7 linked regions of the Homo sapiens genome follow. The protein of the gene in region 1 purifies or fractionates together with the protein of each later gene. This does not show direct contact. Each region holds a gene or a part of one and is shown in the gene's direction. Other genes may lie near its edges. The genes, in order: ZNF74, TRIM24, LRP4, TIMM50, IPO8, SMARCAD1 and SAV1.

Region 1 (4,229 bases):
TCCCCGAATTCAGTCATGGTCAGTGTCTACAGCACAACCTTCTGGCATGGGAGAAGGTCACCTGAGGTTAACCCTTTACTTGTAGGGTCCTTAATCAATCTCTGGCTCCTTTGGAACCATGGACACAGAATCAGTCCTGGGTGAGAACCTATATGTCATTTCAGGAATCGGTGAGTTTCAAGGATGTGGCTGTGGACTTCACCCAGGAGGAGTGGGGTCAACTAGACTCCCCTCAGAGGGCCTTGTACCGGGATGTGATGTTGGAGAACTACCAGAACCTTCTTGCCCTAGGTAAAATCCCCCCAGCCCCAGGCTGGGCGTCGGCTGTCAGCCTTCTTCTACATGGTAGATATTAAGGAGAATCCCTTCAGTGCCGGCCCTGGTGCCAGATATATCATGGGGTGGGAAGCAAGGCCTGTGCCTTGGGGCACTCATGGCCAGGGGCCTCGGCCACGCCAGAAGTCCCCAAGGGACAGCGTGGGAGCTGGTAGCATCCTTGCTTGGTGTTTCCCCTGGTCCTGGGATAGGGGCAGGGAGAGAAGAGAAGAAGGTGGGACCCTGGAGCCCAGCTGGCTCTGGAACAGTCCTCAAGCAATGAAGTAAGGACGTCAGCACACGTGGGGTCTTCAGAGTATACACTGGGATTTGGGTTCCAGTCTGAGACCCTCACTGCTTTTGGCCCAGAGGACCTCCTGTTCCCAGAGAGGGTGTCCACTTCACAGGCATTGTCCTTGTTAGGGGGCGGCCTGTAAGGTCGACTGGGCCTGGAGAGCTGCAGCATGCCCAGCCCACTTTCTCTCCACGAGCAGGACCTCCACTGCACAAGCCAGATGTGATCTCTCATCTGGAACGAGGCGAGGAGCCATGGAGCATGCAGAGGGAAGTCCCCAGAGGGCCCTGTCCAGGTGAGCAGAGGCACAGGTGGAAGGGTGCCAGCCCCAGCACCCCTGGTGGCACCTCCTCCTATGGCCCCTATTTTCCTCCCTCAGTTTGCCCCGGCTCCATCTCCCCTTTTCAGGTCCCCCGCCAGACCCTCCTGCCTGCCTCCCTTCAGCACGTACTGAGCACTGCCTGTGTGCTGAGACCTGTTCTGGGATACAACAGGGAACAAACCTGGCCACTGGGACCAAATGGTCACCTGCTGATGGGGATGGGGAGGCAGGAATAGAAATATTGAGCCATTGGTGTTGGCTGGGCAGCCGGGGGTGTGGGATTGGGGGCAGGGGGCCACCAGGGAAGGGGCAGCTGGCGTTGGTCAGTGTCAGGGTCAGCATGAGCATCAGCATCAGGGCCAGCGTCAGCGTCAGGGTCAGAGCCAGCATCAGTGTCAGGGCCAGCGTGAGCATCAGCATCAGGGCCAGTGTGAGCATCAGTGTCAGGGCCATCATCAGCGTCAGGGTCAGAGTCAGCATCAGCATTAGGGTCAGCATCAGCGTCAGGGTCAGGGTCAACGTCAGCGAGGGCTTCCAGGCTGTGGCCAAGATGGCAGCCCTCCGTAAGGGAAAGGGGACTGGGGTGGGTGTTGAGCAGAAGGTAGTCTGCTTTTCTTCTCCAACATTCTTTTTGTAGACTTCTCTTCTGAGTTGGTTGATAAATAAGTGGTAAATTCGGCTTAATTTATTGGACAGTGACTGCTGAGCATGTTAGGTGTCTAGAAAGCTCGAGAAACACCTTTCTGTGGGAAAGGCAGCCGATAAGCTGTGGAGCACAGAACACGGGGGTCGGGGAAGGCAGCCCCTCCTCCATCCCCCTCCACTGCCACATACCACCCAGCCCCAACCTGCAACAGTGGCTGCAGCCCCAGCTTTCTGGTCTTTATTTCTCACCCCAGCCTCTGATGCTTGCTTTGTCCTCTTTAACAAGATTACAGGTTTCAAAAAATTCATATTTTTGTTTGATTCATATATGAATATACTGAAAATGAGGCTGAAAGGTTACTGAAATCCTGCATAATCTTTCCACCCAGAGATGACGGTTCTCTAATAACTGACCATGTCACTGATTCCTCTGGGCCCTTCCTCTGTGTGCGGATAGACTTCTAAAGCTACATGTGGCCAGGCGTGATGGCTCACACCTGTAATCCCAACACTTTGGGAGGCCGAGGCAGGCAGATCACCTGAGGTCAGGAGTTCGAGACCAGCCTGACCAACATAGAGAAACCCTGTCTCTACTAAAATTACAAAATTAGCTGGGCATGGTGGTGCATGCCTGTAATCCCAGCTACTTGGGAGGCTGAGGCAGGAGAATCGCTTGAACCCAGGAGGCAGAGGTTGCGGTGAGCTGAGATCGTGCCATTGCACTCCAGTCTGGGTAACAAGAGTGAAATTCCATCTCAAAAAAAAAAAAAAAAAAAAATTAGCTGGGCGTGGTGGTGAGCACCTGTAATCCCAGCTACTCTGGAGGCTTAGGCAGGAGAATTGCTTGAACCCGGGAGGCAGAGGTTGCAGTGAGCCATGATCGCACCATTGCACTCCAGCCTGTGTGACAGAGCTAAACTCCATCTCAAACAAATAAATAAATAAAGCCTTATGCACCCTCGGAAGCACAGCACTCACGCCGGAGTCTGGCTACCACACTGGCCATGGCATAGTGAGCGTCCTCACGTGATGTTTACTGATTGCACAGTATCCCTTAGATGAATGTGCCCTGCTGTGTTGTTGGCCCTATTGCTGCCAAAACAACTTTTTTCTGGCCTGGGCCTCTTCTCTCTGCTCTGTGCAACTTCCCTAGACTCTTACCTCTCACTTGGTGTGGATGTGGTCTACACTATAGCAACACCAGCTGAGCTGCAGCCCTGTGTCACTGACCATCTCGTGGGCCTCTGCTTGCATGTCTAAAACCAGACTTGGAACTGGCCCTTCCTCCTCCTTTATAAAAGCTTCCACCATCCACCCAGGCTTGGGTGTTTGCTGAGGTCTCATCCTCTCCCCCATTTCCTCTCTTGCCACCTTCAGTCAACAGCTAGGGCCATCAGTTTTAGCACCTAAATGGCTCTTAGATCTGCTGCTTCCTGTTCATTTTCACAGCCTTGGTTCCAGTCTGAAGTTGCCATTTTTCACCTGAATTATTCAGATGGCCTCCCTAACTGGCCTCCCTAACTGCTGGCTCCAACCACCTTACACACCACCAAAGCCACCTTCAAGACAAACCATTATGCCAGGCACAGGGACTCACACATCTAATCCCAGCACTTTGGGAGGCCAAGGCAGGAGGACCACTTGAGCCCAGGAGTTGGAGGCTGCAGCGAGCTGTGATTGCACCCCTGCACTGCAGCCTGGACAACAGAGCGAGACTGTGTCCCCGCCCTCTGCTTCCCCCGCCCCCCGTCAAGACACCATATGATCACATCACCCTCTGTGCAAAAGGCCTTTCTTCCCCGGCTGCCCTCTGAGTCAGGCATCTGGTCACCTCGAACCCATCCACCTTGCCAGGGTCACCTCTCAGCCTTCCTGCCTCTGCGTGTCTTGTCTTCATCTTACTGTCTCACCTCTGAGCTTCTGCACATGCTGTTCACTCTCCACCTGGCTACCTGCCATGTGTGCCATGGCCAGTTCCACTTGCCCTGCTCTTCTGCATGTGTTGGGGCCACAGGCAGCACCACCATGCAGCTCTGCCCGCTGCACTAGACTGCTCCCTTTTAAGCCTGGGGAGGACAGAATTAGAAATAAAATCTCCTGCCAGCTCAGAAAACCTTGCTATAGAGATAGAAAAGAAAGAAAGCCTTCTTATTGAATAAGTGTTTAACCAGATGTGGTGTACAGGAGAGAAAGAAACCTCCCCCTTTGACAGAGGAGACACATCCAACCCAGCACACAGGGCAACTGTCTTCACCTAAAGGAAGAGTACAGCTTTTTGGGTTTTGTTTGTTTGTTTGTTTTTTGAGACAGGGTATCCCTCTATTGCCCAGGCTGGGGTGCGGTTGCATGATCATAGCTCGAAGCCTCAACCTCCCTAGGCTCAGGTGATCCTCCCACCTCAGCCTCCTGAGTAGCTGGGACTATAGACAGGTACCATCATTCCTGGCTAATTTTGTATTTTTTGTAGAGGGGTCTCACTGTGTTACCCAGGCTGGTCTTGATCTGGGCTCAAGTGATCCGCCACCTTGACCTCCCAAAGTGCTGGGATTACAGGTATGAGCCACCGCGCCCAGCCTCTTGTAGCTTTTTGACAAGCAGGAAGTTACATCTTGGACTCGACTCTTGGACTAGGCTCATTTTGCTTCTGAAAAG
Region 2 (4,229 bases), on another chromosome or scaffold:
ACAGAGTCTTAGTAAAAACAAAAAGTTGTACAAAAAATGTCTTAGTACATTTTGTGGGTCTGCAGTGAACAATATTTAAATAATAATAATAATGATGTAAACAAACACCTGAGTACGAATGTAACTAAAAACTGTGATGCAATCAGGATATAACCTGAATATGCACTTAACCAAAAATTGTGATTTTCAGAATACTTAACCAGTACAAGACAAATACTGATCAGTTAGAATAGATACTGGCAATAAACAGTTATACCAGTACCTACCAACTAAAACAATCAATGCTTAATCAAAACTAAGTTAAAGGGATGGGGTGAATGGTGGTGGTGGTGGTTTTGTGTGTGTGTGTGTGTGTGTGTGTGTGTGTGCGCGCACGCACGAATGGAAGCAGGACGGGGTTGGAGAATCAGAATGTAAAAACCTAATCTCCTGATCTTCACTAGTAAGGATTATAGATGTATTGCAATTTTTAACAATCATTTTATTTAGAAATATGGAGGTAAACAGCAGAAGAAAAAGCTAGGTTTGAAAATAGTTCTTCCAAGGAATAAGTGCTTTTAACTATATCTACATTTATTACTTTGAAATTTTTGAAAACATTTGAAGGAGATTGTTTTTGTTATTGATTTGAAATTTTCACCATCCTGGGCTTCAACAGAAAGTTTAGATTCATCTTATAATTTTTGTATCTTAGGTATAATTTGAATGAACAGCTCCAGTGAGGTATATATATATATATATAGGTCATGTGGTTGACTTCCACTCTACCCAACCCATTCTCTAATTTCTGTAGCCATCCCCAGACTTAGATTTTTTCTCTATTTATTTTGGTATTTTTTAGTAGAGGTTCATGTCTTCTAAGCCAGTTAGCAATAAACATATACCCTTCTCCTGAAGATTCCTTTGAAGCAGCCAGGTGCTCACCAGAGAGTGGTCTACAGTTCAGAATTGCATTAGTGATAAAATTTTTTTTAAAGCCAGTTAAATATATTTTTTTTCTACTACAGGCCAATTATCCAAGAAGCATACTCACCTCCCTGCTCTTAAATAGCAGTCAGAGCTCTACTTCTGAGGAGACTGTGCTAAGATCAGATGCCCCTGATAGTACAGGAGATCAACCTGGACTTCACCAGGACAATTCCTCAAATGGAAAGTCTGAATGGTTGGATCCTTCCCAGAAGTCACCTCTTCATGTTGGAGAGACAAGGAAAGAGGATGACCCCAATGAGGACTGGTGTGCAGTTTGTCAAAACGGAGGGGAACTCCTCTGCTGTGAAAAGTGCCCCAAAGTATTCCATCTTTCTTGTCATGTGCCCACATTGACAAATTTTCCAAGGTAAGATAGTACTTCCCTTCCCACATTCTTTTACTGTAAACTTTTGAAGATTATTTTAACAGAAAGCCTTTGAAAAAACTTAAATGAAATTCCACTTGGCACAAGTGTATACTCCAAAATCCCAATGAATAGTCTAGGTTTTCCCATACCCTTCCGCTTATTCTTTGTGCTTCTTTCAAAAAACTAATCATTCAGCCTGAGCAACACAGGGAGACCCTGTCTGTCTGTACAAAATAAAAAATTAGCCGGGTATGGTAGTGCATGCCTGTAGTCCCAGCTACTCAGGAGGCTGAGGTGGGAGGATTGGTTGAGCCTGAGAGGTCAAGGCTGCAGTAAGCTGTGCTTGCACCACTGCACCCCAGACTGGGCAACAGAGCAAGACCCTCTCCCTAGTCATTACAAAAAGAAAAAAAAATAACAGGCCCTTTAAATTATCACAAGGGATCATCATAAGGAACAATGTCCCTATGCATAACAGCTACCACAGTTTATTATGTCTTTTTGCCAGGCATCGAACTGTATCTTTTACAAGTATTTCAAGTAAATTCTCATACCCTATGGGGATGATGATCATCATCATGACCAAGATGGTTAAGAGCCATTGGGTTGATCTCTCAGTTCTTGGAAGGCCATACTTTTGAAAATTTAATTTTATAAACTTAAGAGTAACAAGAATAGTACAAAGAGCTTTTCTAGTTCCTGAATCCTTTGGAGGAAAAAAATTCAATTATGCCCTAGATATGTGAGCCCTAGATTAAATTTGTTTAGGTGTTTCTTTTTTTTCAATATATGTATCTCACACCTTCTTAACTAGATTTTGATGTTTGTTAGGCCCTTGCATTATATTTCTGCTGTTTCCTCTCAGCATGGTGCAGTATACCTAGTGGTATGTGGTAAATGCTCAGTGATTAAAATTCATGCCAAATGAACAATTCTGTATCATAGATGTCATGGAGGAGGTGGGAAAGGGAAATAGTGAAGAGAGGAAATGATGCATTAGGAATTCAAAAGTACATTGTCCCCTAACAGTGGAGAGTGGATTTGCACTTTCTGCCGAGACTTATCTAAACCAGAAGTTGAATATGATTGTGATGCTCCCAGTCACAACTCAGAAAAAAAGAAAACTGAAGGCCTTGTTAAGTTAACACCTATAGATAAAAGGGTAAGTCTTTGGTAAGATGCATTATTGTATTGTAGTGCAATATTGTACTGTGGTACCTTTTGTCAAAGAGGTGTATATCCATCCAGATTTTATACTGATCCTTTTTATTTAAGAGTATTTTTTTTTGTTTACAAAGGTACATGAATCTTAAAGACTGTAACTTTCTTTAAATTAAAAAAATCACAGAATTAATGCATGTATTTTATAGAAGCTTATTGTACCTGAACAAGATGGAATATGTACCCTAGACTTTTAATCTACCTTAAGTAAATTTCTATTTTGTTTTATTTCCTACTATAGATAAGATTTTTCCTTAGAACTGCCACCAAGGAGCTGGGTTTTTTCTTTACTCTTCCTGGAAATAATTCCTTTTTTTTCACTGAATGGGACTAGACTTATGCATCAAAGCCAACTGATATATTTAACTGTAAATAACATTTAAAGCTACCAAGTCAACACTTTGTTACCAAAAAAACTCCTTTGCTAAATTATTAAGTAGAACAGTCAATATGAAAGTTGTCATGCAAGAGGGGACGTGCCCATTCACTGCCAGTACTACTCAGTGGTTACTGGGATAAACCCATAAAGCAGGGAAGTATATGAATAGCAGAGCACATGGTTGGACCTTCGGCATGCAGAAAGGTGCCTTAGGTCTGGATGCATATTGAGAAGGTCCACCTCCAGTTCTCCTAAGAGACGTACGTTCTTCCTTTATAGACTATTACTAATTTATAATACACAGACTGGAGCAATAAGTGCAAATTTATTGTTAGAAAACTTCAAATGGTTTTCTAGTGATTGTCTTAGTTCATTCAATTACAGGGCCTGTTCCCAAATATTGGGAAGGAGAGCAAAACTCCGAGAATCAGTAATTTTTTTGTATTCATCTGGGTTTTAATTTTTAGTCTGACACTTTGGGACCTCTGAGATTGTTATTTAAAATAAGCTGTGAATTCATTGTTTTATAATATTTTATCTCAGTTTTTATTTATTTTTGCTTAGAAGTGTGAGCGCCTACTTTTATTTCTTTACTGCCATGAAATGAGCCTGGCTTTTCAAGACCCTGTTCCTCTAACTGTAAGTATTAATGTCATTTTCTGCATGTTTACACAGTGGAATGCTTTTCTGGAATTTTATGAGAATCTAGCTTATATTACCATTTTTCAGTACTTTTTAATATCTAAACCTTAAATCTTAATAATACATACTGAATGCTTTGATCCTATGTAGGTACATTTTAGTAAGTGGCCCAAAACTTCTGTTCATTTCTCAGGTATTCTTTCTTCTTTCTTTTCTCATCTATTTTACTTACCACTGGGATGTTTAGGGTGATTTCTGTTAATTTTCTGTATTTCAGGAGTTTTAGGCATGTTTCCGAAGCTGTTGGAAAAAAAACTTTGAAATAAAGACATCTCTCCCTGCTACATTTTCCGTACTTATTTTTCTTTATAGGTCCAGACTTCAAGTAAATAAGTAGACGTTACCAATACAAAAAAAGTTGAGGAAGTATGTGCGCAGGTGCTATTGACTTCAGAAAGGTTCATATTGAAAGTTTGATGTGACTGTGGCCGGGCGCGGTGGCTCACGCCTATAATCCCAGCACTTTGGGAGGCCGAGGCGGGCGGATCACGAGGTCAGGAGATAGAGACCATCCTGGCTAACACGGTGAAACCCCGTCTCTACTAAAAATACAAAAAATTAGCCAGGTGTGGTGGCAGGCGCCTGTAGTCC
Region 3 (4,229 bases), on another chromosome or scaffold:
ACATCACCACAGTACAATGATCAAAATCAGGAAATCTAACATTGATCCAATATTACTGTCTTTTTTTTTTTTTTTTTTTTTTTTTTTGGTTTTTTAGAGGCAGGGTCATGCTGTGTCACCCAGGCTGGAGTGCAGTGGCACAATATTGGGTCACTGCACCCTCGACCTACTAGGATCCTGAGTAGCTGAGACTACACGCATGAGCCATAACGCCTGGCTAGTTTTTTTCTTTTTTTTTGGTAGAGACTTCCTGTATTACCCAGGCTAGTCTCAAACTTCTGGCCTCAAACGATCCTTCTGCCTCAGCCTCCCAAAGTGTTGGGATTATAGGCACGAGCCACCATGCCCGGCCCAATATTACTGTCTAATCATAGTCCTTGCCCAATTTCACTACCAATTGCCTCAGTGATGTCCTTTATAGCTCCTCCCACCCCACTTTTTTTCTTTGTTAATCTAGGATCCAATCAGGATCACCCATTGTGTTTAGTAATTACGTCTCTTTTAATTTTTATTTATTTATTTATTTTTAGACACTCACTCCGTGGCCCAGGCAGGAGTGTAGTGCCACAAACATGGCCCACTGTAACTGCGACCTCCTGGCCCAAGGGATCCTCCCACGTAGCTGGGACCACAGGCACCTACTACTGCACCCTAGCTACTCAGGAGCCTACGGGTTTGAGGCCACTCGGCTGATTTTTTTATTTTTTGTAGAGATGGGGGTCTCACTTTGTTGTCTAGGCTAGTCTTGAACTCCTAGGCTCAAGCAATCCTCCTGCTTTGACCTCCCAAAGTGTTGGGTTTATAGGCATGAGCCACCACACATAGCTTTTTTTTTTTTTTTTTTTGAGACTGCAGTCTTGGTGTGTTGCCCATGCTGACCTGGGCTCAGGTGATCCTCCCATCTGAGGCTCCTGAGTAGCTGGAGCTGTGCGCCACCGGGCCCAACTAATCTAGTCTCTTTACTCTCTAATCTGGAACATTTCCTCAGCTTTTCTGTGACTTTATTGACATTTGCATTTTTTGTTTGTTTGTTTTGTTTTGAGACAAGAGTCTTGCTCTGTCGCCCAGACTGGCGTGCAATGGTGCGATCTCAGCTCACTGCAATCTCTGTCTCCCGGGTTCAAGCAATTCTCCTGCCTCAGCCTCCCAAGTAGCTGGGATTATAGGCACCCGCTACCACGCCCAGCTAATTTTTGTATTTTTAGTAGAGACAGGGTTTCGCCATGTTGGCCAGGCTAGTCTCGAACTCCTGACCTCAGGTGATCTGCCCACCTGGACCTCCCAAAGTGGACATTTGCATTTTTAAAGAGTAAAGGCCAGTTATTTTTTATAATGTCTCTCAACTTGGATTTATCTAATGTTTCCTTGTGATTGGATTCAGAGTGTGCATTTGCAGCAGGAATACTACACTAAGTGAAGTCATGTCCTTGAGTTCTCAGTGTGTCTCATCAGTAGACACAGGTGTTGGCCTGTTCCGTTATTGTGATACTTACTGCCATTGTATGGTTAAGGTAGTGTCCACTGTAAAGTTGCTATTTTTTAATTTTGTACTTAATAAGTAATTTGTCCAGAGATACTTTGAGATGATGTGAGTAATAGATGACTTCCAACATCTTCCAATAAAACCATCACACGACCCTTAGAGCCAGGCATGATCAAGTCACAGATTGATAGAGCAAGGCTCAGAGAGATTTTATAAGTAGCTCTTACTGGAGGTCACCCAGTAGGTGTTAGTGGGAGAGCTGCTTTCTGAGTCCACAGTGAGCTCTTTGCCACTGCTCTGTACTGTCAGACTTTGTTGAAGATGACACAGTGTTGGGGCCCTGGCAGGTGCTGATTGGAAGCCAGCTCCCCCACCCATTTGGGCTGACCCTCTATGGAGAGCGCATCTATTGGACTGACTGGCAGACCAAGAGCATACAGAGCGCTGACCGGCTGACAGGGCTGGACCGGGAGACTCTGCAGGAGAACCTGGAAAACCTAATGGACATCCATGTCTTCCACCGCCGCCGGCCCCCAGGTGAGCAGCCCTTGGCTCGCATTGGCTTCTCCGTGGCCCTCCTATGCCCTAGCTCTCCCCATTGAACATCCCCTCCTCTCTACCCAGTGTCTACACCATGTGCTATGGAGAATGGCGGCTGTAGCCACCTGTGTCTTAGGTCCCCAAATCCAAGCGGATTCAGCTGTACCTGCCCCACAGGCATCAACCTGCTGTCTGATGGCAAGACCTGCTCACCAGGTGAGTGAAAGCATCACAGATCTAGATGCAGCCTCTCTGGGAGGGGGCAATGGCTCTCTTCCTTCCTTGCAGATGGGCTCCAATGTGGTCTGAGAAACCATGAGTCCTGCTGCTTCTAGAGGCCCAGGGGAGAGACTCACGGCTTTTAGAAAAGGGGACGGGCCTGGGGAGAGGCCCTGGGGAGCAAGTAGAAAGGACTGGAGGCAGGGTCCAACTAGTTCTTATGATGTCTTCATGCATATTAGATAAAGATGCTCCTTTCTCAAGACACTTTCCTCTCATCTCTTAGTACATTGTCATAATATACTGATTTGGTTGGAATAAGACACTTCTGGCTGGGCACGGTGGCTCATGCCTGTAATCCTAGCACTTTGGGAGGCCAAGGCAGGCAAATCACTAGAGGTCAGGAGTTCAAGACCAACCTGGCCAACATGGTGAAACCTCGTCTCTACTGAAAATACAAAAATTAGCCAGGCATGGTGGCGCGTAATCCCAGCTACTTGGGAGGCTAAGGCAGAAGAATTGCTTGAACCTGGGAGGTGAAGGTTGCAGTGAGCAGAGATCACGCCACTGCACTCCAGCCTGGGTGACAGAGTGAGACTCTGTCTCAAAAAAAAAAAAAAAAAAAAAAAGACACTTCTAACTGCCCAAAATTGGTATAATAAAAACAGAAATGTATGATATCTACAATGTCACAGTACCCTCCTCCTTAGATGTGCCACTTTTGTGAGTGCACAACCTATGTGACAACCTTATTGGAGGGTCCCAGAAGCAGTACCTGGCTACCCAGATGTCGGAAGTCAAGGCTTCTCCCTAGGAGATGCTGCAGGGTAGGCTGCATTTGAACTCTAACCTCCCTGGGAATTTGAGTGAGAAAGGAGCTGTGAACTGTGCCTCTCAGGTTGTGAGTAAAGCCCCCTGGGGTCCCTTTATTCCCTTTCTTTTTTTCTCTTTCTTAATCTTCATGGTAAAGGGTCCTTCAAAGAGAGCCACTTTCATAATATTAATAAAGAGGCATTATTTATGAATATGTGTGAGACCTAATGGTAAGTGCTTTATGTACATGATCTTTTAACCCTTACAGCCACCCCATTATTGTCCCCATTTTATAGATAAGAAAACTGAGGCCTAATAATTTAAGCTGAGAGTAGTGGCTCATGCCTGTAATCCCAGCACTTTAGGAGGCTGAGGTGGGCAGAGGCTTGAGCCCAGGAGTTTCAGACCAGCCTGGGCAATATGACGAAACCCCATCTCTACAAAAAAATACAAAAATTAGCTGGGCATGGTGGTGTGTGCCTGTAGTCCCAGCTACTCAGGGGGCTGAGGTGGGAGGATCGCTTGAGCTCAGGAGGTCAAGGCTGCAGTAAGCCATGATCATGCCAGTGCACTCCAGCCTGGGCGACACAGCAAGACCCTGTCTCAAAAAATAATAATAATTTAAATAACTTGCCTAGAATAACATAGCTAGAAACTAGCAGGGACAGGGCATGAGTTTCAGTTTGCCTGATTCCAAATCCATTTAATGGCTGTGCTCGAGTGATCCTCTTCCCTCCTCTCCACCTGGCAGGCATGAACAGTTTCCTCATCTTCGCCAGGAGGATAGACATTCGCATGGTCTCCCTGGACATCCCTTATTTTGCTGATGTGGTGGTACCAATCAACATTACCATGAAGAACACCATTGCCATTGGAGTAGACCCCCAGGAAGGTCTGTATGGCCCTCTCTTCCCACCTGGCCTTCTGTCCCTGCCCTTCAACAATTACTGTCTTTCCTCTCCCACCACCTTTGTCTCCTGCCAAGAGCCAGGGTGTTTGTTCCCCATTCCCTCTGGCATAGCCCCTGTCCCTGTCTCTCTAGCACTCTCTCTTTGGTTGTGAGAGCATGGTTTGGGGCCCTCTTCTCTCCGTCTCTGCCAAGAGCTATCCTGCTATGATATTTCTGCGTTTTCCTTGATTTCCTCTGCTAGAGGCTCCAGAGCTCTCTGACATG
Region 4 (4,229 bases), on another chromosome or scaffold:
GCTTATAGTTGTACATATGAGACTGGTTGGGGTTTGTTTGACCCGGGCTCTGTTACTGTGGCCAGTGCTGTATTCAGGAGTCCGGATCTGCGAATGGGCCTCTGTGGGTCTGGCTCCAAGTGTCTGTGTGTCTGTTGGTTTCTGTCTGTGTCGTGTCGGGGTGGGGGTTCTGTGTTGCTCTTGGAAATTCCAAAATACGTGGGCTGTGATCGAGGGTCTTGAAGGGTCTGTGTCTGGGTGCCTGTCTGTGTGGTTCCCTGGGTGTGGCTGCAGATCTGTCTGCACCTGTTTACTTGAGTGAGAGGTTCTTAAACCTGCAACATACCACAGTCACCTGGGCAGGGGTTAAACACGAGAGTGGCCACCTCCCTCTCCAGGGAACTTCCTAATCACCTCTCTGTGTGCTAGGCCCTGGGTCTAGAAGTCTATGTGATTAGCTCCCCAATATCCTGGGGGTTGTTTTGTTTTTTGTTTCTGAGACAGGGTTTTGCTCTGTCACCCAGGCTGGAGTGCAGTGGTGTGATGAACATGGCTCACTGCAGTCTCAACCTTCTGGGCTCAAGCGATCTTCCCACCTCAGCCTCCTGAGTAGCTGGGCCTATAGGCACACACCACCATGCCTGGCTAATTTTTATTTTTATTTTTATTTATTTATTTTTTTTGTGAGACGGAGTCTCGCTCTGTTGCCTAGGCTGGAGTGCAGTGGCGCGATCTTGGTTCACTGCAACCTCCCCCTCCCAGGTTCAAGCGATTCTCTTTCCTCAGCCTCCCGAGTAGCTGGGACTACAAGCACACACCACCACACCCAGCTAATTTTTTGTATTTTTAGTAGAGACAGAGTTTCGCCATGTTGCCCAGGCTGGTTTTGAACTCCTGAGCTCAGGCAATCTGCCCACCTTGGCCTCCCAAAATTCTGGGAGTACGGTCGTGAGCCACCGCACCCGGCCATTTTTTGTATTTAGTAGATACGGGGTTTCACCATTTTAGCCAGGCTGGTCTTGAACTCCTGACCTCAGGTGATCCGCCCGCCTCGGCCTCCCAAAGTGCTGGGATTACAGGCGTGAGCCACCATGCCTGGCCCTCTGTGGGGGTCGATGCCATCATCCAAAGCCGGTCTTTGAGAGGCCCTGCCATTGTGATCCCAGTATGTGTGATGCTGTGTATGTATGTATGTTTTGTGTGTTTTGGGTCTTCTTGATGGGGGGAGAGTTGGGCACAGATGTTGACCTGATCTGTCACTCACTTCCAGGATATTTCATGTCTGAATCGGGACCCAGCTCGAGTAGTAGTTGTGGACTGCAAGAAGGAAGCCTTCCGCCTGCAGCCCTATAACGGCGTTGCCCTGCGGCCCTGGGACGGCAACTCTGATGACCGGGTCTTGTTGGATCTGTCTGCCTTCCTCAAGAGTAAGGCTGACCCCTGATCCCTTGGCCTCTGACCCCAGAGCCCCTGACTCTGAAGAGGAAGGATAAATGCATGATTCATGGCTGGGCGACTGAGGTGCAAGAGGTGCCTGAGCACCTTGGAGTCTTTAGGAGCTTCTTAGGATGTTCATGGAATGTTTGGGGGATACTTGGGGATGTTCAGGGGAGCCCTTTCAGAGCGTTCAGAAGCATTCCAGGTAGCACTGACTGCCCCCGTGCCCCAGTGCGGGACGTTCCCCTCATGGGCCCTGCCTCCCTCTGGCCTTTAGAAGCCTGGCTGACCACCCCCTGTTGTGCCCACAGCCATTGCACTGAATGGTGTGGAGGACGTGCGAACCGTGCTGGAGCACTATGCCCTGGAGGATGACCCGCTGGCGGCTTTCAAACAGCGGCAAAGCCGGCTAGAGCAGGTTGGTGCTCAGATGCCCAGAGTGGAGGATCGGCTCTGAGGCTCCTGAAGGAGGAGCCTGGGGCAGTCCATCTCCACACTCTTGGTTTGGCTGTGTGACCCTGAGCAGATACCTCCTCTCTGCCTCAGTCTCTGTAACCAGGGGGATATAACACAGCCTGTCCTGTAGGGCTGCCAGAATGAGGGGATGCATTGATTCTGCAGCCTGCTCTGAGAACAGGAAACAGGAGAGGATTTGAGATTAGGCTGGGAGAGGGGTTGCCCTTGATGGTCTTGAGTAGGTCTGGGGGCACCTTGTGGAGGTGGATTGTGGGTTTTAGATCAGGCCTGGAAAGAGGCTCCCTGGGCACGTGGCCCAAGGCTGTGGGGAGAGATGTGATAGTCTTGGTGGGACCCTGGTAATTTGGAAGTGGGACTGAGAGTATGGATTGCGTCTGGGTAAGATTCCCAGGGGTCTAGGCTGAGGTTCACCAGATTCTAGGTTAGGTTCCTAGAGTTGGGAGCCCCTGAGTGCCCAGAGAAGTCCCTAGAGATTTGGGCCTGGGGACCCCCCAGGGAACCCCCCACCCCTGCATCCAGAGAGGGGTCATGGGGCTCAGAGGGCCCAGGGGCAGGATGATGCAGTCTGGTGAGGAGGGCCATGGGGTTTGGACCTGGGATCTCACCAGCATTCACCTTGGGGTAACAGGGTCTGCGATAGGATCTCAGGCTCAGGGGAGGGGTCCCTGGGATCTGGGGAAGGAGATTATGACAGTCTGGGGCCTGAGAACCTACTGCAGTTCAGGCCTGAATACCTCGAGTGCCTAGTATTGGAGTCTGTCGTCCCCCAAACATTGAAGCCTAGGCTCCTGCGGCTCAGAGCTGGCTCTTCCTAGTGTCTGGGGTGGGGGGACTGGGGTCTAGGGTCCCTTGTGTCTGGGCTGGGGGCCCCAGGGTTTGGGGAAAGGGGTCTGGACTTGGCAGAAGTCAGAAGGAAAGGTGGTCCCTGGGCTGAGGCCTGGGGACCTGGGCATCTGGGAGGAGGCTCTGTCCACCTTGCGCTGACCCTCTCCTCCAACTGTCCCCCTACCCCAGGAGGAGCAGCAGCGCCTGGCCGAGCTCTCCAAGTCCAACAAGCAGAACCTCTTCCTTGGCTCCCTCACCAGCCGCTTGTGGCCTCGCTCCAAACAGCCCTGAACTCTGGGCCTCCTCAAACTCAGTGCCTGGGTCCAGGGCCCCAGTGCTTCCAGACCAAGACTTGGGCCACCACTTGTCCAATAAAGTACATCCCAGACGCCACACCTGCTGTGTCCCGAGAGTCTCCAGATGGGGGCATCAGGGTGAGGTCCGGGACTCTTGGGTCATCGTCCCACAGTGGCTGATCGGCTGCCAAGCACAGTGGGGGTGCTTTGTTGGATCAGAGCAGATTTTTCACCCTGGTCTCGGAATCTAAAAACCCTCGCTGTGTCTTCCTGTGTGTTGCGTGATCTGTGAAAAATACATCTCCCTCTGACCACAGACTCCTCATCTGTGGAGAAGGGAAGAGAGGATGGCACTTGGCTTTAAAGACAGGTAGCTGCCAGGCTACTGTGGAGAGAATGTGTTATGGGCCTAGTGGGCCTCTGGTGGACCAGAGATTACCCCTCTCAACAGGCCAGCTGCTGGTTGGCTCCAGCCAGTGTGGCCCTGGGGTAAAGGGGGCCTGGAGTTGCTTGACACGCCAGTTGTTCAAAAGAAGCAAGAACTTGGGAATATTTTTTTTTTTTTTTTGAGACAGGGTCTCACTGTTGCCCAGGCTGGAGTGCATTGATGTGATCTTAGCTTACAACAGCCTTGACCTCCCGGCTCAAGTGATCTCCAAGTGACCCTCCTGCCTCAGCCTCCTGAGTACCCTCCTGGGGACTACAGGTGCGTGCTACCATACCCAGCTAATTTAAACAAATTTTTTTTTTGTAGAGATGGGGTCTTGGTGCCCAAGCTGGTCTCAAACTCCTAGTCTTAAGCAATCTTCCTGCTTTGGCCTCCCAAAGCGCTAGGATTCCAGGTGTGAGCTACTGTGCCCAGCTAAAATAGGGATTTTTATATTAAATCTCCCTATTTTAAAATGTTGGCTCCTAGCGGGGCGCAGTGGCTCACGCCTGTAATCCCAGCACTTTGGGAGGCTGAGGTGGGTGGATCACCTGAGGTCAGGAGTTCAAGACCAGCCTCAACATGGAGAAACCCCATCTCTACTAAAAATACAAAATTAGCTGGGCGTGGTGGAGCATGCCTGTGATCCCAGCTACTCAGGAGGCTGAGGCAGGAGAATTGCTTGAACCTGGGAGGCGGAGGTTGTGGTGAGCCGAGATCGCACCATTGCACTCCAGCCTGGGCAACAGCAGCGAAACTCCATCTCAAAAAATAAAATAAAATAAAAA
Region 5 (4,229 bases), on another chromosome or scaffold:
AGGAATTGGAAGGCAACTTACTGTAGTGAAGAAAGTTGCCTAAAGGTCCTTGAGCCAGTTCAGAGGTGCTTTGGCATGGCTTTTTCCTTATAAATAATTTTTTAAATCAGTTTTTAAAAAATCAGTTTTTAAAAAATAACTTCTCAGTTGTGTTGTGTTTACAAATACCTTCTTTTATAATCTGAGATTATAAAAGAAAATTCTCCCATGTTTTCTTTAAGGAATCCTGTGCTATCATTTTTTGTCAGTGTTAAAATAGTTCCCCATCTGAAGTTTATTTTGGTGTGAAGTTGAGGGAGTTAATTTAAATTTTTTCAGGGGGCTAATCAGTTATGCCAATACTATTTTTTGAACAACTTTTCTCTTCTAATTTGAAGAAGTCTTTATGAAATAAAGAAACATCTTTGTGCTGTCTCTTGTTGTATGGAAGTTTTTAATGTTTCTTTAGTCAGATCTGTTATTGTAATTTTTTTTTTTTTTTTTTTTTTTTTTTGAGGCAGAGTCTCGCTCTATCACCCAGGGCTGGAGTGCAGTGGCGCGATCTCGGCTCACTGCAAGCTCCGCCTCCGGGGTTCATGCCATTCTCCTGCCTCAGCCTCCCCAGTAGCTGGGACTACAGGCACCCGCCACCACGCCCGGCTAATTTTTTTGTGTTTTCAGTAGAGACGGGGTTTCACCGTGTTAGCCAGGATGCTCTCGTTCTCCTGACCTCGTGATCCGCCCGCCTCGGCCTCCCAAAGTGCTGGGATTACAGGCTTGAGCCACCGTGCCCGGCTCCTGTTATTGTAATTTTTTAAACAGGAGTTTTAACTTACTTTGAAGAGCTAGCAGTGGAATAGAAATTTAGACTTTGCCTGGAAGTTACAATGAGACACCGTTTAGTTCAATATAACATGGACCTATCTAATAATTAAAGCTGTTTATCTGAGCTTTCTTACAAAACATTGATTTTTCTCCCAAATCTGTTTATTTTTCTATGGATTCTGAATTTTAGGTCATGCCAAAAATGGCACCTCCCCCTTTTAACCTTATAATTGTTTATGTTAGTCTGTATTTTCTGTTTTCTTATAGGTGCTACTAAAAATTTTAGATCAATATAGACAGAAAGAATATGTAGCTCCCCGTGTTCTTCAGCAAGCATTCAACTATCTCAACCAAGGGGTGGTTCATTCTATAACCTGGAAGCAGATGAAGCCACACATACAGGTTAGTGTCAGAGAGCAGCTCTCCAAAATTATTCTCTGGTTAAATTAGGTTTTCTAGACAAAGTTAGTATTACTAATCCTATATTTTACATTTTATATATATACATTTTACCATTAATAATTTCTAATGAGTGAAGTCCTATGTCAGATATAAAGGGCTTAGAAATTTAAGCATTTGAGAAAAGTGAAGCCTTCAAGTTTTATGAGTCGGGAGACCTGGATTCACTTGATCTTGCTTAATCTCATTAAGCCTCATTTTCTCCTCTATTAAGGCACATAGTGTTTTTCTATTCTTATCTAAAAGTTGCTAGGATTAAATGAGGTATTTTGTGAGAAAGTATTTTGAAAACTTACCAGGGCTCTACTAAGGTAGTGTTATTTTGCAGGAATTGAAGACTGATATGTGACCGTTTTATTTTGTAGGTATGAGCAAGGTTTTTATTTATTTTCTTGGATTGTTAAGTTCAATAGCATCATTGTTTCTATATCGTTTGCCTAAAGGTAGAATTCAGTATTGTTATTTAGCTAAAGAACAAATGGGAATGGAAAATTATAGGCCACTAATAAATAAATACTTCCTTGTATACAAATAATTGGATAATTTGACAGTCTTAGGAACTGAATACCTACTCTCTCCCAAACTGTGAATTCTTAAATTTTATAAATGATATCTGAAAAGAAAAATCTTTCACTTTGCTGTTTGCTGTCCAGGATAGAATTTTAGTGTTATTACCCGTCTTACCAACAGATATCTTTTCTTTGATTTATGTAGATATCTTAATAACTATTTGCCTAATCACTTTGATCAAATAGTGATAATTTCTTTGCAATTAATTAATAAAGATACTGATTTCATTTGCTGTGTTCCTGTAAAGTAAGGGTGAGTTGTGATAACATTTCTTCTCTACTTCATACCTTTGGCTTTATTTTTACATAGCTGTAAAGTAGGAATAAGAAAACGCTGATCCTTAGGCTGAATTTTTTCACTTAGAATTATTTAATTTGGAATTAAGTGGTAAGAGATGATCCTGTTTTTATATAAATTGTTGTTAGAGCCTAAAAGGGCTTAATAGGACATTAGTAGCAGTGCACAGAGAGGCTAGTAGATAGGACTTTTCTCTAACTGAAACATTTGTGGAGTAGGAAATTAGTTTTTTTGGGAATAGAAGTAAAGAAAATTCCAATTTTTTTTTTTTGGAGCTGGAGTCTCACTCTGTTGCACAGGCTGGACTGCAGTGGCATGATCATGGCTCACTGCAGCCCTGAGCTCCTAGGCTCAAGAGACCCTCCAAGATGGACGCCACCATGCTTGGCTACGTTTTTATGTATTTTTTTGGAGATGGGGTCTCGCTACAGTGCCCAGGCTGGTCTTGAACTCCTGTCCTCAAGCGATCCTTCTGCCCTTGGGCTTCCAAAGAGGTAGGATTACAGACATGAGTCACCATGCCTGGCCCTTTAATATTGTTAATACATGGACATTTAGGACTAAAATGGAAATGTTAAAAAAAATTTCAAAATAAGAACTATAATAGTAAATATAACCTCGACTTGACATTTTACACACACACAGAGTTTGGAAAACTAACATCATAAAGGCTGTCAACAAGTACATTATTAGTATTCCTCAAACTTGAATAGCCTATACCCATTTGTTACGTTTTTTTTTTTTTCTCATTTTAGAATATCTCTGAAGATGTGATTTTTTCTGTGATGTGTTATAAAGATGAGGATGAAGAGCTGTGGCAAGAAGATCCATATGAGTATATAAGGATGAAATTTGGTAATTGAGATGGTTTTATTTCTCATCAGTTCCTGGATATGTAAAGTAATATAACTAAATTTATATTTTTAAGCAAATGTTATTACTTTATTAAATCTCCCAGGTTCTGTTTTGCATGACATAATCTGAAACTTTGAGAGTTTGATGTTATTTTGTTGAACTAGAGAACTGGAGATTGTCGGATGTGGGAGATGAAAAGCCACCTCATTCATCTCTCTTACGGGTGCTCAAGTTGAGCCATCTGTTACTTATGCTGTTGCGATGCTGATCTGCAGGGACCATCCGTTTTTGTGCCTTTTGGGAGACTCATTTATAGATTGGGTTGTTCTCATGTGGGAAATACTTTGGATTTCTGCATATTTTAGGGGTACCCCAATTTGGTTTGCTTGCTTGTCTGAGAGACTAAGTGTTCCACAAGGGAAATAAATTTCGTATGGGGGCCCTACTGTGTGTGGTCCAATTCTTTGGGTGTCCTTTTAACTTGGATCTTCCTGGAAACTGTTGAATTGTGTAGGTGGCCTGATTTATTCCCTTTTATTCCCAGTTTGTATTAATTGCTTCATGGAACACTCAAGCACTTAACATAGCAAAATATTAATTTGCATACCTATCTCCCACAACTTAGAAGCTTTCTCAGGACAGGAATTTTACCTTATTTGCTTAATTTTGCATTTTCTGTCTCTTCTACACCTCTGCATTCCTCCACTAGTGCTTGGCCTCCAGTATGCCTTCAATACATGTTGAAAGAAATGATTGCTAAATCTAGCGCTGCGTGCTGAAAGTGCTGTAATGAAGCAGTGCTTTCCCCTTAGTTGAGCCAGGTGTGTCTAGCTACGTAAGCTAAACCTACTGGTACAGATGCTAGTTTTTTGGGCTGTGTTTTTACAGAGCTTTGTGTTTATATTATTTGATTCAGTAAGTGAGGATCCTGTTTTCTCTTGGAGACAAAGTATCAGAAAAGCAAATCAATGAGAAACATTTATCATCTGCTTGATTTGTTATTTTTCTTTTGAAAATCATTATTCATATGTGTAACTTATTATTTCCCCTTTCTTATGCCTTTGTTTTTCTAGTTTGCTTTGAGTGATTAGCCAACCATTCTTCTCTCTCTCTCTCTCTCTCTTTTTTTTGTTCCAGTGACTCTCCCACCTCAGCCTCCAAGTAGTTGGGGCCACAGGCATGTGCCACCACACCTGGCTAATTATTTTTTGCAGAGACAGGGTCTCCCTGTATTTCCCAGGCTG
Region 6 (4,229 bases), on another chromosome or scaffold:
CCGTACAGGCAGCTTTAGTGTAAAAGGAGGAGGCTGGCAACACCACAGAAATTTTATTTATTCTTTATATTTTAAGTTAGTACAGCAGACATAACACAAGGACAGTGAGCTACAACCTTCTGTATCTGGTGTTAAAAATTTCCATTCATTTTCAGATAACCTGTTTTTTGCCACTTTACAATAACTCGTAAGCTGTAACTCTTCCAATGTCCACAAGCAAACTTCAGCTCATATTTATTGTAGTATTTAGGTATTAACTATTTAATGTGTGTAAAATTGTATCATTTTTATTAGATTGCCTTCTCTTTTTATATGTCACTGATGAAGTTTTTGACATTGTATCTCTAACAGTTTTTCTCCTAAAGGCTGCAATTTTTAACAATTTTGCATAATGCAGTAATTTTTGGAAATATATGTGTCACAGCAAAACTGACTGTGGTCAGTAGAAGAGGACATGATGACCTTTCTTTAAAACTCTCTAAAACGATTTTCCCACTGGGGCTTGCCAAAGACTTCATACAACATCCTTACCTGCAACAGATTCTTGGAGAATCATTGCATCTGCTGGTCACGAAACCCAAGTGGCGGAGTACCTTGTATTGCACTCTGGACCTGGTACAGAGCCGTCTCTTAACCTGGGCCCCATTCATAACTGACATTCTTTTTTTTTTTTTTTTCTTTTGAGATGGAGTCTCGCACTGTTGTCTGGGCTGGAGTGCAATGGCATGATCCTGGCTCACCGCAACCTCCGCCTCCCGGGTTCAAGCAATTCTCCCACCTCAGCCTCCCGAGTAGCTGGGATTACAGGTGCCTGCCACCACGCCTGGCTAATTTTTTGTATTTTTAGTAGAAACGGTGTTTCACTGTGTTGGCCAGGCTGGTCTCAAACTCCTGACCTCGTGATCCACCCGCCTCAGCCTCCCAGAGTGCTGGGATTACAAGCGTGAGCCAGCGTGCCCAGCCATAACTGACAATCTTAAGAGGTATTTTATAAAATGAATCAAGCAGTACACACCCTAATGAAGTATATCTTGCCTCCAGTGTGCAGTGAGCTCCCAATGTCCAGTCTAAAGAGGCAGATAGGTGCGGCCTTTCTTTTTTCTTAAGAGTGGAGTTTGCAACATGCTCCAGACTACACTCCCACGAAAGTGGTGGGCCTCAGAGTGAGGATGGTTATTCCTTCACCCTGATATGTGGCATGTACGTATCTGACCAGTACCATTGAAAATACCCACTACCTGTATCAAGTCCAGTCAACATGATGTCAGTATAGTGGATCAAGTGATACTCTCTAGACTGTGCAAAACCATCTAAGTCCATGAGTACTGTATTATTTGAGAGAGCCAGGAAAGTTACTCTAACTCTGAAGACTGAAGGTATATCATTAAACCTGCCAAGATAAAAACGGATTGTTTCTGTTTGATCTAATTGGGAAAGGGGAAAAAGCAAGTACTTGATTGATAACTGCATAGCCATATTGATTTGCTCCAGCAAAAATACCACATCCTGTAAAGCAGCTGCAGCTGGAGTTTGATTGTTTATGATACTCTTAAATACTTGCAAGACTCATCTACTTTTTGTATAGGTCAAGGAGGCATCTTACATTGGGATGGGATGGTGGTGTCAATATCTGCAGTTCCTTTAGGACTGTAGTAATTGCTTATTGTTTTGATTGAGAGGGACAATTCTAGGGACTTGGATTTGGTGTTTCCTATAATAGTAGCCCATACATCATGGGTCAGGGAACTGATATAGTATGGGATTTCTGCCAGTGCCAAATATGTCTGTTCCAACTATGATTCTGGAGATGGAAAAATAAGCACTGGGTCGAATCATATCCCTTGGGCCCGCTGAGACAGATACAGTCCCAAATTTTATCAGCTAGCTTTTGTAAAGTGTCTGTGTAACCTCCTGGACCACATGAGTATATTCAGTCACCAGGGATAAGCAGAGCTGGCATAAGTGTGGGACCCAAGAGCAAACAACACATGATAGGCACACCATCTACTAAATATTTGATTCCGAAGAGCTGTTTACTGTTTTCCAGATATTTTATGTATTTTTTTATTGAGGTGAAATTCACATAGCATAAAATTAACCATTTTAGAGTGAACTATTTAATGCTATTTAGTACATTCACAGTGTTGTATACCATCATTCCTGTCTAGTTCCAAACGCTGTCATCACCTCGTAATAGCATGCTATACCCATTAAGCAGTTTCTCCCCATTCCCTCCTCCCCCTAACCCCTGGCAACCGCCAATCTGCCTTCAGTCTCTGGATTTACCTATTCTGAACATTTCATTTAGGTGGAATTATATAATATGTAACCTTTTATGTCTAGCCTCTTATTTTTTAATTTCAGAAAAATGTGTTTTATTTGTTTTTTCTTTTTTCAACTTTATGTTAGAATTGGGGTACATGTGCAAGTTTGTTACAAACGTATATTGCGTGATGCTGAAGTTTGAAGTATGAATGAATCTGTCACCCAGATAGTAAGGATAGTACTCCATAGGTAGTTTTCCTTAACTCTTCCCCCACATCCTCCCTCCGCCTTCTTGTGTTCCCCAGTGTCTGTTGTTCTCATTTTTATGAACACGTGTACCCAATGTTTAGCTCCCATTTATAAGTGGGAAATGTGGTATTTGATTTTTCTGATTCCACATTAGCTTGCTTAGGAAATGGTTTCCAGCTACATCTGTGTTGCTGCGAAGAACATGATTTTGTTCTTTTTTATTAGCCTCTTACATAGCATAATGCTTTCAGATATACTACAATGTTCATTCATGTTGTGGTGTGTATCAGTACTTCATTCTTTTTTATGACTTAGTGATATTCCATTTTATGTGTTTACCACAATTTGTCCATGACGCACATTTGATATATTAACAAATGAACAACTGAAGTTTAGTTTTCACTTATGTAGTGAAAAAGCAGTGGTCTAGAGTTAGATACTTGGATCTGTTCCCTCCTCAGCTGGTTGTTGTCCATCTGTGAGCTTTAAAATACTGTTCTTGGAATTTCAGTGTGCCTGGGCTGTAAAGGTGGCAGTATGAATTTTGAAGATTTTGAAATGGTTTCTCCAGATGGGTTTCACCAGTATGTCTTATTATTCCCCTGCTCAAAATCCTGTTGCTTCTTAAAAAAGACTAACCTTAGGCTTTATTCCATGTTAGCTCTGGTTTAATTCTTCATCCTTGTAACCTATTAACATTCTCTGCATTTGAGCCCAAGTAGACCACTTAGTATTATGAAACACATGCAATTTTCTTCTTTAGTCCAGATATCCATAGCATTTTATTGGTCTCTGTTTTATGAAATTTTATTTTACTCCATTGTGCAGAGGAGGTATCAGAATTTAGTTATTTCTATCTAAGGTACTGAAAGAGAAAAATAGCAATTCAGTTGTTGGATAATAAAGGAGGTTGAAGAAGAAGATTGTATTTTTCTCCATCTTGTGTGTATAGCATGTGGTGCAGTTCTAAGCAGAGTAGAAAAATGCTTTTTGATTGACTAAAATTTTTCCTATGCATGAACACAAGGAGTCTTTTCTTTTTGCTTAAATGTGGACTTTAACCAGTTTCTTCAAGTGAAGTTAAGTGACAGAGAAGAAGGAAAAGTGAGACTATGTATAGCCACAATTCTCATATTAATTAATCTGTTCGGTTTATACATTATTTAGTTCCACTTAAATTCCTTTTATCATTGTTTCAGTTTTATGTTGTGACTGAACAATTAATATTTAAGCCATTCTGTGAATCAAGAGTGAAGTAAAAGTAAACTCTTCTCAGAATTTGAAATTTATAGGTGGATATATAATAGTGAACATAGATGAGATATTTGTATCCTTTTAAAATTTACCGTTGTCTTGGAGAAGGCATCAGTATACTTGAATTATATTGAGTTAATTTGAGGATCATTCTAGTTTTTTAGGAGATTTATCTCATTTTAAGCACTGAGAATAAAGTTTGAGTTACCGGATATGCAATCAGGGTCTTTCAGTGATCTTAAGTCAGCAATATTTTTCATCCTTAAAGACATAAATATGTCAATGTTCACAGAAACAAAAAGAAACAGTTTGGATTCTTCTGACTGATGATGATAATTTTCAGATCAAGTCAAAATACAATGATAATTGCCTTAAGACCATTGTTATTGATATCTCTTAAATTGTTTTCTTTTTTTTTTCTCCCCATTAGGGAGAGGAATCAAATGAGTCTGCAGAATCTA
Region 7 (4,229 bases), on another chromosome or scaffold:
AAGGCCCAATACAGGCATCCCTGTGCTCCTAGGTACAGTATCAACTTTATTTTCAACTTTTTGTTTCGGGATTGTCTAATGTTAGGTTTTGAACTGATATTTTCATCTAAGAGAATAGCATCCTAAAGCTTGAGATTTGAAAGCCTTATATTTCAAAATTTACATTTTTCTCTGGACATACATTTAGTAATAAATGACTTTAATAAGTTAAAAAAATACTTTTCTCTTTAAAAAAACCTCAAAAACAAGATCATTGTTCTTATGATCAGATTCTGCTGTAGTAATGCCAGAATGTTTTTGTTATAGGTGTCCAGAAAATTAAATAATTAAAGCTTCTGCCTTCTTACACTTAAATTTTTACAAATAATAACAGACCTACCCCCTAAGTCAGAATGTACAATTGAATTATAACATTTTGCTGTTTATTCTATTTCAGACATGATTGTATGTTCTGTTTCTTGCTATTACTAGACAAGAAAGTGAAAATTGGGACTGAACAAAACATCCCATTTCTGTTTAATAAATATAGCCAGTAATTCTTTGTGCTGTTTTGATTGATACTGGGCTGGGTAGATCTGCTTTGTTGCCAGACTTTTAGCCCTGTGCTGCCTGATAGCCAGTTGTCACGTGTGGCTGTTGAGCCCTTGAATGTGATTAATATAAATTGAGATGTGCTGTAAGTGTAAATACACACTGGATTTCAAAGTACATAAAAGCTAGTATTAGTTTAGTAATGAAGTTGCAAATATTTCAAATTAACCACATTTGAGCTTCAAAAGCTGAGCCACAAGATTAAAAATGAGTAAAATATCATCTGCATTTTGATAAATGTTGCTTAGTGTCATCTGGCATAATACAGTTTTTTGGTTATAGTGGACATTTGTATTTTCTTAGAACCATTAAAATAGTTATGAAAATGTGTTTTAGGATTATCAACTGGAAAACTAAGCTTTATCATTATTGTGTTGTTTTAATTATTTTATGTATTTGGATTTATTAATTCAACTTTGAAAATCTGTTTTTTCCCATGATTCCATGTAGTGGCACCCAATCAGTGTTTATTCAACTACTGAGGTTGTTGTCCTTTGAAAGAATCAAACCTGTGGTGTGGTCATCAGGTGGCAATGATTGTTGCAGTCCAGATAACCAGATTTGAGAGTTTACTTTTCTGTTCGTTGACATGGTTTGGCTCTGTGTCCTCACCCAAATCTCATCTCAAATCGTAATCCCCATGTATCAAGGGAGGGACCTGGTGGGAAGTGATTGAATCATGGGGGCCATTTCCCCCATGTTGTTCTGGTAGTGAGTTCTCATGAGATCTGATAGTTTAAAAGTGTGTGGCAGTTCCCCCTTCTTTCTCTCTCCTGCCACCACGTAAGATGTGCCTTGCTTCCCCTTCATCTTCTGCCATGATTTAAGTTTCCTGAGGCCTCCCAATTATGGAACTGTGGGTCAATTAAACCTCTTTTCTTTATAAATTACCCAGTTTCAGGTAATTCTTTATAACATTGTGAAAATAGACTAATACAATCATCATTAACCTTATGTTATTACAGAATTTTAATAGTTTTTTAAAAGCAATTTCATAATTAGTTAATTTACTTCTCTCAGCAACTTGGTAGAAGTTGAACAAGAGAGAATAAACGCTGCCCTTAAGCTCACATATGTAGTATTACTAGTTGTCTGGTTGTCTATCTTAGGCCAATCCTTATACAAAATTCTTGACTTACATTAGGTCATTTAATCCTGAGAACAACCACCTGTGGTATGAATTTATTATTCCACTTTTACAAGTATGGAGGCTGAGGCTTAGGGATAGGAGGAGTTTTGCTTACATTTACATAGTTTGTAAGTGTTAAAGCTGTGGTTCAAATCCAGGCGTACCTGACTTCAAAGTCCCAATTCTTCTTCACCCCCAGTTGTACTATCAAAGAACATTTTCCTTTGAACCTATTTAGGAAAGAAGAGTTGAAGATAGAATTCAGTTCCATTTGCATATTGATCTTTTAAAATTGTTAACCACAGCATAATCTAACCTTATTTTAATCCCAGTTTAGTAAACAGTGACCTTTTCTAATATACACATGCATTTTTTTCTCCCCATTGTTATATATACACCACATTTTCTTTTTTTTCTCCCTAACTTTTATTTTAGGTTCAGGGGTACATGTGCAGGTTTGTTACATGGGTAAATTGCATGGCTTGGGGATTTGGTACAGATTATCACCCGGGTAATAAGCATAGTGTCTGATAGGTAGTTTTTCTTTTCTTTTTTTTTTTTTTTCTGAGACGGAGTTTCACTTTTGTTGCCAAGGCTGGAGTGCAGTGGCGCGATCTCAGCTCACCTCAACCTTCGCCTCCCAGGTTCAAGCAATTCTCCTGCCTCAGCCTTCCAAGTAGCTGGGATTACAGGCATGCATCATGAAGCCTGGTTAAGTTTTGTATTTTTAGTAGAGACGGGGTTTCTGCATGTTGGCCAGGCTGGTCTCGAACTCCCGACCTCAGGTGTGAGCCATCACGCCCGGTCCCTGATAGGTAGTTTTCAATCCTCATGCTTCTCCCATCCTCTGCCCGCAAGTAGGCCTCAATGTTTATTGTTCCCTTCTTTGTGTCCATGTGTACTCAGTGTTTAGCTCCTACCTATCAACATGTGGTATTAGTTTTCTCTTCCTGCATTAATTCACTTAGGATAATGGCCTCCAGTTCCATCAGTGTTGCTGCAGACTACATGCTCTTGTTCTTTTTTATGGCTGGGTAGTATTCCATGGTGTCTGCATACCACATTTTCTTTATCCAGCCCACCATTGATGGGCATTTAGGTTGATACCGTATCTTTGCTATTGTGAATAGTGCTGCAATTAACATGTGCACACGTGTTTCTTTATGGTAGAATGATTTCTATTCCTTTGTAGAAATAGTCCCATTAATGGGACTGCTGGATTGAATGATAGTTCTAAGTTCTTTGAGAAGTCTCCCAACTGCTTTCCACTGTGACTGAACTAATTTATGTTCCCACCAGCAGTGTATAAGCATTCATTTTTCTTTGCAACCATACCAGCATCTGTTATTTTTTGACTTTTTAATAATAGCCATTCTGATTGATGTGGAATGGTATTTATTTCATTGTGCTTTTGATTTGCATTTCTCTAATAAGCAGTGATGTTGAGCATTTTCTCATATGCTTGTTGGCCACATATACACATAAATCTTTATGTTTGAAGGTGCAGACCCCTTTTGGTCTCAAATAGACCCTTTTGGCCGCTTCGAGTTCAGCTATTAACCTTCAGGTGGTTCAGTGCTTTCCTTACACTTTCCCATATAATATCTCCACTCCCCACAGCATACACAGGCTATTAGAACTAAAGTATGGTCTTTTTTTTTTTTAATCTCTGTGACTTAAAATAGGTTCTGATCAACTCTGACTCCCATATGTTCTCTTGAGTTGGTAAAAGTTGAAAAGTTATCTGCATTGGATAGAGATATTTCAAACACAATACTCACTGCTGCGTCACTACATATCCTAACCCCCATTTTCAGCCTACGGGAGGAAGGAAACATCCTTTCTTAGAAACTGTCAACCTTTCTGATATGAATTTACAGCTGATGACTATTTCTTGTGGGAATTTACTATTCTAGTTTTAAGCCTTTGTATAAAGGTTAAAACTTAGTTCCAGCTTTTTCATATCCTCCTTTGAACCTGTTTTTGAAAAGACTAAATACCAGCCAGAAGAAATATCTTAAAAATACATTACCTTTCAGGTGGTGTAAGTCAGTTTGGACAGAAGGCACACTGAAAAATGCTTAAGTATTATTTGTTCTTTATAATTTCTTGTTTAGATTTTAAGACCTTTATCCTAAAGAATGTCACTCCTTTCTTCTTAGTGTACCTCGGTATGATCAACCACCTCCTGTCACATACCAGCCACAGCAAACTGAAAGAAATCAGTCCCTTCTGGTACCTGCAAATCCATATCATACTGCAGAAATTCCTGACTGGCTTCAGGTTTACGCACGAGCCCCTGTGAAGTAAGTACATTTACAACACAAATTTGTTTGAGGAGTGAGTGAAGGGCTGAATGGAGTCTCTGGGCTGCTCGATCCAAGTAGTGTGCCATATTTTACTCTTAATAATATTCGGCTTCTAAGTAATACGTGACTTGAATAAAGGATGTCATAGTTTATAATGTGTGAAAATCATTAATTAGAAATATTAGTTCTTCAGACATTTA

Evidence for each region.
Region 2: the proteins of ZNF74 (region 1) and TRIM24 purify together in Homo sapiens (co-immunoprecipitation; one large-scale study listed by IntAct). This does not show direct contact.
Region 3: the proteins of ZNF74 (region 1) and LRP4 purify together in Homo sapiens (affinity purification with mass spectrometry; one large-scale study listed by BioGRID and IntAct). This does not show direct contact.
Region 4: the proteins of ZNF74 (region 1) and TIMM50 purify together in Homo sapiens (co-immunoprecipitation; one large-scale study listed by IntAct). This does not show direct contact.
Region 5: the proteins of ZNF74 (region 1) and IPO8 purify together in Homo sapiens (co-immunoprecipitation; 2 studies listed by BioGRID and IntAct, with this or other methods). This does not show direct contact.
Region 6: the proteins of ZNF74 (region 1) and SMARCAD1 purify together in Homo sapiens (co-immunoprecipitation; one large-scale study listed by IntAct). This does not show direct contact.
Region 7: the proteins of ZNF74 (region 1) and SAV1 purify together in Homo sapiens (affinity purification with mass spectrometry; one large-scale study listed by BioGRID and IntAct). This does not show direct contact.

What each region holds. Positions count from the first base shown.
Region 1 is NC_000022.11:20,400,468-20,404,696, forward strand, and holds part of ZNF74 (zinc finger protein 74), read left to right. Parts: intron 1-164; coding exon 165-291; intron 292-809; coding exon 810-905; intron 906-4,229. UniProt on the Homo sapiens protein: May play a role in RNA metabolism.
Region 2 is NC_000007.14:138,578,197-138,582,425, forward strand, and holds part of TRIM24 (transcription intermediary factor 1-alpha), read left to right. Parts: intron 1-1,007; coding exon 1,008-1,336; intron 1,337-2,365; coding exon 2,366-2,498; intron 2,499-3,500; coding exon 3,501-3,575; intron 3,576-4,229. UniProt on the Homo sapiens protein: Transcriptional coactivator that interacts with numerous nuclear receptors and coactivators and modulates the transcription of target genes.
Region 3 is NC_000011.10:46,876,917-46,881,145, reverse strand, and holds part of LRP4 (low-density lipoprotein receptor-related protein 4 precursor), read left to right. Parts: intron 1-1,830; coding exon 1,831-2,020; intron 2,021-2,107; coding exon 2,108-2,239; intron 2,240-3,806; coding exon 3,807-3,947; intron 3,948-4,229. UniProt on the Homo sapiens protein: Mediates SOST-dependent inhibition of bone formation. Functions as a specific facilitator of SOST-mediated inhibition of Wnt signaling.
Region 4 is NC_000019.10:39,486,812-39,491,040, forward strand, and holds part of TIMM50 (mitochondrial import inner membrane translocase subunit TIM50), read left to right. Parts: intron 1-1,249; coding exon 1,250-1,406; intron 1,407-1,727; coding exon 1,728-1,834; intron 1,835-2,907; coding exon 2,908-3,009; 3' UTR 3,010-4,229. UniProt on the Homo sapiens protein: Essential component of the TIM23 complex, a complex that mediates the translocation of transit peptide-containing proteins across the mitochondrial inner membrane. Has some phosphatase activity in vitro; however such activity may not be relevant in vivo.
Region 5 is NC_000012.12:30,667,939-30,672,167, reverse strand, and holds part of IPO8 (importin-8), read left to right. Parts: intron 1-1,071; coding exon 1,072-1,206; intron 1,207-2,885; coding exon 2,886-2,985; intron 2,986-4,229. UniProt on the Homo sapiens protein: Involved in nuclear protein import, either by acting as autonomous nuclear transport receptor or as an adapter-like protein in association with the importin-beta subunit KPNB1.
Region 6 is NC_000004.12:94,245,456-94,249,684, forward strand, and holds part of SMARCAD1 (SWI/SNF-related matrix-associated actin-dependent regulator of chromatin subfamily A containing DEAD/H box 1), read left to right. Parts: exon of another isoform or gene 1-3,098; intron 3,099-4,198; coding exon 4,199-4,229. UniProt on the Homo sapiens protein: DNA helicase that possesses intrinsic ATP-dependent nucleosome-remodeling activity and is both required for DNA repair and heterochromatin organization.
Region 7 is NC_000014.9:50,640,547-50,644,775, reverse strand, and holds part of SAV1 (protein salvador homolog 1), read left to right. Parts: coding exon 1-32; intron 33-3,882; coding exon 3,883-4,026; intron 4,027-4,229. UniProt on the Homo sapiens protein: Regulator of STK3/MST2 and STK4/MST1 in the Hippo signaling pathway which plays a pivotal role in organ size control and tumor suppression by restricting proliferation and promoting apoptosis.